2 linked regions of the Homo sapiens genome follow. The protein of the gene in region 2 interacts with the protein of the main gene of each other region in a pairwise test. Each region holds a gene or a part of one and is shown on either strand. Other genes may lie near its edges.

Region 1 (3,500 bases), on a different chromosome or scaffold from region 2:
CTGCTGATGCCTGCTCACCTGACCCCGGCATTGCTGCTACCCACTACAGGTGGCTGAGGAGTGGGCCCAGGGCACCTTCAAACTGAACTCCAATGATGAGGACATCCACACAGCCAATGAGCGCCGCCTGAAGGTACGACCCCTGGAGCCCCACCGCTTTCCTTGCCTCCCCTCTCCACCTTGCCCAGGGCCACTTTGAGCATTAGCACCATTCTGTTTACTTCGCCATTGGCAGACAGCATGTGAGACCTCAGGACATGAGCCAGGCACCCTGGCTCATGCCTATAATCCTAGCACTTTGGGAGGCTGAGGTGGGAGGATTGCTTGAGACCAGGAGTTCGAGACCAGCCTGGGCAACATAATGAGGTCCCACAGCTACAAAAATTAAAAAAAGAAAAGAAAAAAAGAACAGGCCTCAGCAGAAATGGCGAGAGATTTGGGGAGGACCCGGAGCCCTGGGGTATGGAGGTAGGTTGGCAGGGCTGATGAGGAAAACTGCCCTGCCTGGGTTGACTCCTCTGGGGGTATAGACCGTGACCCTGGGTCTCCCTTCACCTCCAGGAGCTCATTGGTGCAACGGCAGGGAAGCTGCACACGGGACGGAGCCGGAATGACCAGGTGCTTTAGCCCCTCCACCCCCTGCTCCGTGTTGTCCCAACCTTGAGGAGCCCAGGGGGCAGTTAGAGTTCTGCAGCGGTCCTGGCTCCTCAGGGAAGCAACACATCGGCCTCCCTGAGCACCATCTCCTCCTTGCACAGGTGGTCACAGACCTCAGGCTGTGGATGCGGCAGACCTGCTCCACGCTCTCGGGCCTCCTCTGGGAGCTCATTAGGACCATGGTGGATCGGGCAGAGGCGTGAGTCCTACAGGGACACCCAGGGGGCAGACAGAGGTGTGATGGAAGCCTGAACAGGAGACCTAGGGGGCAGGGGTGAACAGCGTGGGGGTGCCAGGCCCTGGGGGACAGGGGCATCCCAGAACTCCAGGATCGAGGCAGAGCAGCCAGGAGTGGGCCATTTCCTGCAGGCCCCAATACTCCCATGCCAGTCTAGCTCAGCAGGCAGAGAAGACTAACCCTTCGTGGGGCTGGGTGCGGTGGCTCACGCCTGTAATCTCAGCACTTTGGGAGGCCGAGGTGGGTGGATCACCTGAGGTCAGGAGTTCGAGACCAGCCTGGCCAACATGGGAAAACTCTGTCTCTACTAAAAATACAAAAATTAGGCAATGTGGTGGTGTGCGCCTGTAATCCCAGCTACTCGGGAGCCTGAGGCAGAAGAACTGCTTGAACCCGGGAGGAGGAGGTTGCAATGAGCCGAGATCGCGCCATTGCACTCCAGCCTGGGCTACAGAGCGAGACTCCTGTCTCAAAAAAAAAGAAAAAAAAAAAAGAAAACTCACCATTTGCAGATTTGAAGGCAGGAAGCTAAGCCAAGCACAGCTAGCTTGGCTGTGCCTGGAGCAGCCAGAGTCACTCCCCACACTGCCTGTCCCCCAGATCCCCCATCCTAAGCTTCGCCTCCCCATCCAGCCCATCTGGCAAAAGACAGAGCCAAAGGCTGCCTCCTGCTGGCCTCATTTCAGGCTTTGGCTTCTGGGACCTGGTGTCTTTGGGACTGGATTTGTTCCTTGCAGACCTGGACGAAGAGCTGCTGAGAAGTCTCCATGTGTTGTCAGAGACCCCTCCTCTTCCTCAACTCCCTGTGACCCCTGTTGTGCAGACTTGGGGGAAAACAAGGGCACAAGAATTGTCACCCAGCAGGTGGTGTGGGGCTGCTAGGAGGAACAGGGAGTGTCTGCTACTGAGTTCAGGGTTTCTTTAATTTTTTGTTGTTGTTGTTTGTTGTTGTTTTTTTTTTTTTGAGACAGGGTTTTGCTCTGTCACCTAGTCTGGAGTGTAGTGGCGCTATCTGAGCTAACTGCAAACTCTGCCTCCTGGGTTCAAGTGATTCTAGTGCCTCAGCCTCCCAAGTAGCTGAGATTACAGGTGTGCACCACCATGTCCAGCTAATTTTTGTATTTTTTTCAGTAGAGATGGGTTTTGCCATGTTGACCAGGCTGGTCTTGAACTCCTGAGCTCAGGTGATCTGCCCGCGTCGGCCTGCCAAAGTGCTAGGATTACACCCATAAGCCACTGCGCTCAGCTTAATTTTTAAATTTTTAACTTTTTAAATTGTCTTTAGAGATGAGATCCTGCTCTGTCACCTAGGCTGGAGTGCAATGGCTTGGTAATAGCTCACTGCAGTCTCAAACTCCTGGACTCAAATGATCCTCCCACCTCAGCTTTCTGAGTAGCTAGGACCACAGGTGTGCACCACCTGTGAGACAGAGTCTTGCTCTGTTGCCCAGGCTGGAGTGCAGTGGCGTGATCTCCACTCACTGCAACCTCTGCCTCCCAGGTTCACGCCATTCTCCTGCCTCAGCCTCCCGAGTAGCTGGGAGTACAGGTGCCCACCACCACGCCCGGCTAATTTTTTGTATTTTTAGTAGAGACGGGGTTTCACCATGTTAGCCAGGATGGTCTCAATCTCCCGACCTCATGATCCACCCACCTCGGACTCTCAAAGTGCTGGGATTACAGGTGTGAGCCACCGTGCCCAGCCGCGAATTCTTTAAATTTTTTGTAGAAACAGGGTCTCACTATGTGGCTCAGGCTGGTCTCAAACTCCCGGCCTTAAGTGATCCTTCCCTCTTGGCCTCCCAAAGTGCTGGGATTAAAGACTTGAGCCACCGTGCCTGGCCTTGAGTACAGAATTTCTTCATGGGGTGATGAAAATGTTCTAAAATTGGTTGTGGTGATGGTTGTACAGTAAAGTGTAAACTTTAAATGAGTAAATTGTGAATGATATCTCAGTAAAGCTGGTTTATTTAAAACAACAGGCCAGGTGCTGTGGCTCACGCCTGTAATCCCAGCACTTTGGAAGGCTGAGGCGGGTGAATCACCTGAGGTCAAGAGTTCGAGACCAGCCTGGCCAACATGGTGAAACCCCATCTCTACTAAAAATACACAAAATTAGCTGGGTGTGATGGTGGGCACCTGTAGTCCCAGCTACTTGGGAGGCAGGAGAATCTCTTGGACCTGGGAGGTGGAGGTTGTAGTGAGCCGAGATCACGCCACTGCATTCCAGCCTGGGCAACAAGAGCGAAACTCTTTCTCAAAAACAACAACAACAAAAAAACAGGCCAGGTATGGTGGCTCATATCTGTAATCCCAGCCCTTTGGGAGGCCAAGGCAGGAGGACTGCCTGAAACCAGGAGTTTCAGACCACTCTGGGCAACATAGCAAGACCCCATCTTTTTTTTTTTTTTTGAGACGGAGTCTCGCTCTGTCGCCCAGGCTGAAGTGCAATGGTGCAATCTCAACTCACTGCAAGCTCTGCCTCCTGGGTTCATGCCATTCTCCTGCCTCAGCCCTCCTGAGTAGCTGGAACTACAGGCGCCCACCACTACGCCCGGCTAATTTTTTGTATTTTTAGTATAGATGGGGTTTCACCGTGTTAGCC
Region 2 (5,112 bases):
CTTGGATTCAAATCTGTGCCTTCCTTAATGGACTGGTCTCCCCGCCCCGGCCCCACCCCAACTCCATCTCTTAGTCCTGCAGGGCTGTTTAAACTGGTCCCACCAACAGGCATCACTTTCTTCTAATGTGGACCTTCTACTAAGCTCTTCTCTGGCTGACCAGCACAGCTCTTGGGTTCTGCAGTGGTCCCCTGTGGCAGGACAGCACTCATCAGTATGAGAAGGGAGATACCATGAGCTCCACGAGCTAAATAGTAGAAGTGAGGGGGCACTAAAAGGTACAGTTTAGCGGTGAGGTAATGCCCCTCCAGTTTGAGCAGCTCAGGTTCTGGCTCAATACTGATGAGGCTTTGGGATGTCTTGTTCTTCCAGTCCCAGCCTATCCCACCCCTGACACCTGGCCAACTCTTACTCATCTTTCCATTCTTAGAATTTCCAGGTCACTTTTTCAGAGAAGACTAATGACCAAGTACCACCCTCCGCCCTACCAAATCAATATGCACATATAAACTTAGGTCACCAGGATATATGCTTTACAGCTCTCTTCATAACAATTATCACTTTGCAGCTAAATAACTGTTAAATATCGGTGTCCCCTTCTAAGGATGTAAGCCTCGCATGGCATAAGGACTGCATCTGTTTTGTTTGCTGCTGCACTTGCAGCACTGATATGGCATTTGGCACATAGTAGGCATTCAACAAATGAATGAACTCCCCAGCTCAATCTCAGACCTGAACTGGACATCTCCACTTGAATGCCGCATAGCTATCTCAAACATCTGCAAAAGTGAATTCATCAACTTAAACCTGGGCCTGCTCCTGAATGGCAACACCATCTACCCAGTCCACAAAGTCCTGCCATTCTTGACATTTGACGATTTAGCAAAATCTGCCATTCTTGCTTCCTTAATATCTCTAGAATCTGCTGGTGTCCTAGTTTGGTCCTTAACATCTCTCTCCTATACCATGGTATCTGAAAGTAGATCCCTGACTTCAGGGATCTCACAGTCTAGTGGGGGAGAAAGACTTAAACCAAAATAAAACAAAACAAAACCAGACAAAAACAAAAACAAACCAGTGATTCCAGTAAAGTATGAAAAGTACTATAGCAAAAGGCTGAGGGAACTGAGAAGAATGTGATTTAACATTCTGCCTAAGGGAATGAGGGAGTTTTCACAGAAGAGCTGATAAAACTGGAAGCTTAGACAATTACACAAGGACATAATATATACAAATCAAATTATTAATTCAGAATCACAAAATGTTTTTTGTCTTCTGTCAACTGATGCTGGTTCCACTCAGTGAGGTCTGCCTCATCCTCCACCATAGAAGTGTCCAAAAGAGAAAACGGTCATGTCGTGAGGACCCCAATCCCCATGTACTGAGAGGAGGAGGGGGATCAGACCTCATCAGGGAGCCCAGCCCATGCCAGCCCTAAGGACTCCAGAGTAAGAGAAGCAGAAATTCAACTTAGAAATCTGAGCCAGGCTCCTAGCAGTGGCGACATAGAGGGCAGGTGGAAGTAGAAGCAAGAGGAGGACTGCTATAGAAGTAGCAGGTGTTTGGAAGAGAGTGGAGCTATACCAGGTGTTCCCTCTCAATTCCCCACTCTGAAACAATGGGGAGGCCAGGTGCAGTGGCTCATGCCTGTAATCCCAGCACTTTCAGAGGCCAAGGCAGGAGGATAGCTTGAGCCTAGGAGTTCCAGACCAGCCCAAACAATATAGTGAAACCCCGTCTTTACTAAAAATAAAAATAAAATAAAATAAATTAGCCAGGTATAGTGGCATGCGCCTGTAGTCCCAGCTACTCGGGAGGCTGAAGTAGGAGGATTGCTTGAGCACAGGAGGTCAAGGCTGCAGTGAGCTGTGATCATAGCACTGTACTCCAGCCTGGACAACAGAGACCCTGTCTCAAAAAAAAAAAAAAAAACTATGAGGAAGTTCAGCCCCCTCACCAGGACAGACAAAGTGGCACTTGTTTTTCTGTGCATGTGAGCAGTGAGCACACCTGTGTGTGTGCACAACAGAGAAGGGGTCCCAAATCTCAACTTTTATGCCAGGAAGCATTCCCAGCCTAGGGAGTTGGAAAGGAGCTGGAAGGTGTAACTGAGTAGGGAACTGAGCACCACCTCATTACTCCCCCGCAATCCCCTCCTCACTATCCAGGCTGGGCCCAAATGCCTTCCTGTGCTGCACAGGGCCTCTCCATTCCTCTGCTCTTAGAAATAGGGTAGGAGTAAAGGACGACTGGACAGAACTGGGAATATGGCCACAGAAGAGTCCCTTGCACTTTTAGACTGTTAGGTGAAAAGCAGGGGTCAGAGAGTAGCCGTCACTGAGGGAAAGGACCTTAGCAGAGCTGGATCGATGACATGAGTACTCAAGCAGGGTCAGGAAGTTTAAACGTATAGGTGTTTAGAAGTAAGGATCTTCAGCGAAAAGTTTTGCTACCCAGTAAAATGTTTCGAAGAAGTAAAGTGCATGGTAGTTAGAAACAATCCCCTATAGGATAAAATCAAAATTCCACACTCCATCTCCAAAACCAATTACAATCTGACCTCAGCTACCCCTGGCTTCTAATAGTAATCTACCTCCAGGCCTGCTGGGCTCCTTCCAGTTCCCTGAACCACCTCCTCCAGCACTTTCCCACCTGCTTGCCTTTGTTTACAGCCTCCACCTGGACGATGATATTTTTAACAATAGCTAACATCAGAAGTTTCACTAGATGTCAAGTATAGTACATCATTTAACACTCCCCGCAACCCTATCAGATATACTTTTCCTAATTTTACACATGAGTTAACTGAAGCTCAAAGAGGTCATGTGACTTGTTAGTATGTGACAGAGCTAGGATTCAAGCTCAGGTGTCTGGTTTCAGAGCCTGAGCTTTTAACTGCTCTGCTGTGTCAACTACCCTGGTGCCCACTGTACTAGGCTCTGAGCTTTTACTACAAGAAACAGAGGGAAAAAAAGGCACATTTCCTGGCTTTGAAAAGGAGCTCACAGTGCAGCAGAAACCATGTTCATTCAGTGCGGTTGATGCCATAATCAGGTGTATGAGGTTATGGGAGAGGCAGTGGGAGGACCACCTGCTACAACTTCTAGCCACTGAAAGATACCCCCTTTGGCCAAGATACCCCTATGCAACTGTCTAGCCAACCTGATAACTGCAGAGACTCCAGACAGACTACATACATTCAGGAGCCAGGCATGCATGTTGGAAGACACGGAGGGCAGGCCACCAGGAGAAAAAGGGAGAAAGTAAGAGGCTCAAGGAGAGGCAGAAGGAAAGGAGGAATGAGCCAGATCTTTGCAGTCCAGGAGCTGACCTGCCCTAAGCCATGGCCTACAAAGTAGAGGCTACAAGCATAGTAAACTCTGGTTTCTGACTGAAGGTGCTGGTTACAGTTGTGGCCTATGGGAATGGGGTGGCTGGTGGGTGCGTAAGGGGTGATCCTTTGATTCACTGCTCTTAAGGAACGGTACTATCTGTAGGGTTCCATCTTCCAGGAGGTGACCTGTACATTCTATCTTTTCAGTAGCCTGTAGCTTGAAAACTCTTATTTTGGTGGTGGAGGAGAGCGGTAAAGGTGCTTACCTGAATACACTGGTTGTTGCTGTCTGCTACCACGATGCGGCCGCTGCTGGCTGCGGACACACCTTGTAAATTGGTGAATTCACCTTTCTCCCTTCCACGACTGCCTGTGGGAAGGGACAGGAGGGAAAACAAAATAATTCATTCAGAGGTCATCTTGAACCTCCCTTCCCTCCCCACCCACTACCTGAGCCTGGCCCATCTGGCTCTGCCCTCGGCTGTCTGTACCAACACGGAAGACGAGCTCATCCTCAATTGGGTTGTCCTTTCGTTTGCCGCCTGTGCTGTACATGGAGCTGGGCCTACGCACTGCCTTCTGGCGCACATGGCTGCCGGGGCCGCCAGGGGACTTGACACGGCGCTTCACATCGTCCGGGGAAGGTGGCAGGTCCCCCGGACGCAGGGCACGCACGCGGAAGGGGCTGCCGCGCACTGGCTGTCCGTAGAGCAGCACCGAGAGGAGCAGCTCGCCTTCCGTGCGCGCTGTGTACACTAGCTCATATGTGCCATTCTTGTGGTCCACCACTGGCACCGGAAGGCGCGTGCCGTCCGGGCCGGTGATCTCTGCACGCAGCTCAGCGCTGCCTGTGCGCACCAACCGCCCGTCCTTGTCTTTGGTAGTGACAGTGAGCGAGGCAGGCTGGCCCACTAGCGCCTGGCGCAGGCCCTCTCCCGTGGCCACCGTTTCGTGTGCAGTGGCGCTCGTGGTGAGCAGTGCGCCCAGATTGAGCACCGATCGCCGCAGACCGTCCACCTCAAGGACCAGTTCCAGCTGTGCATTCTCATGTGGCCGCTCCGGGAAGGCCTGTGCCGCCAATGCAGCCAGCCGCTCTCGCATGTGCTTGCGCACCAGCAACACCTCCGGGGCCGAGCCCAGGCGCAGTGCCTGCTCTGCAAAGCTGCAGCTACTGCCGATGTGTTCCTGACCCTGGCGCAGTGTGTCCAGCTGGCTTTGCAACACCTGATGAGGGGTAGGGGAGGAGTGGGTGAGCAGACTGGCACAGGGGGAGTCTCTGTGATTACTGAAGTTGTAGCACTGTGGCATAAAATACAAGAGGGTGCCTGTGGACAGAGGACACAGATGCCCACAGCACCTACCGAGGGCATGTCAGGAGGCAGAATATCTAGGCTGGGGAATGGGGAGCTGGTGTGGAAGACAGAGGAACAATGGAGGCAATAACACCATCACAATGGACGATGGTAGGAAAGGGTGAACACAAGACACACCTTCTGTTTGGCCCCACAAATGGTCTCCAGGTCGCTGACCAGAGCCTGCTTGCGCTGCTGCAGTGCTTGCTCCAGGTCCTCGAACGCTGCACTGATCTGGGCCAGGGCCTCTGCCTTGCGCTCCTGCAGCTGCTGGCTGATGCCCCCGACTAAGGCAATTGCTGCGGACAGCTGTGGCAATCTGGAGGGGGAATATCTCATTCCAGAGTTGCTGAGGGTGGCTTTGCCGAACTTTCCCTTCTCCCTGGGGAACCTACTGCTGCCCTCATGGAGATCTCCTTCCTGAGA

The links.
Region 1: the proteins of TRIM3 (region 2) and ASL interact in a two-hybrid assay, tested with the Homo sapiens proteins (one large-scale study listed by BioGRID and IntAct).

The regions. Positions count from the first base shown.
Region 1 is NC_000007.14:66,082,319-66,085,818, forward strand, and holds part of ASL (argininosuccinate lyase), read left to right. Parts: intron 1-49; coding exon 50-133; intron 134-561; coding exon 562-618; intron 619-758; coding exon 759-856; intron 857-3,500.
Region 2 is NC_000011.10:6,452,472-6,457,583, forward strand, and holds part of TRIM3 (tripartite motif-containing protein 3), read right to left. Parts: intron 5,006-5,112; coding exon 4,825-5,005; intron 4,559-4,824; coding exon 3,826-4,558; intron 3,705-3,825; coding exon 3,601-3,704; intron 1-3,600.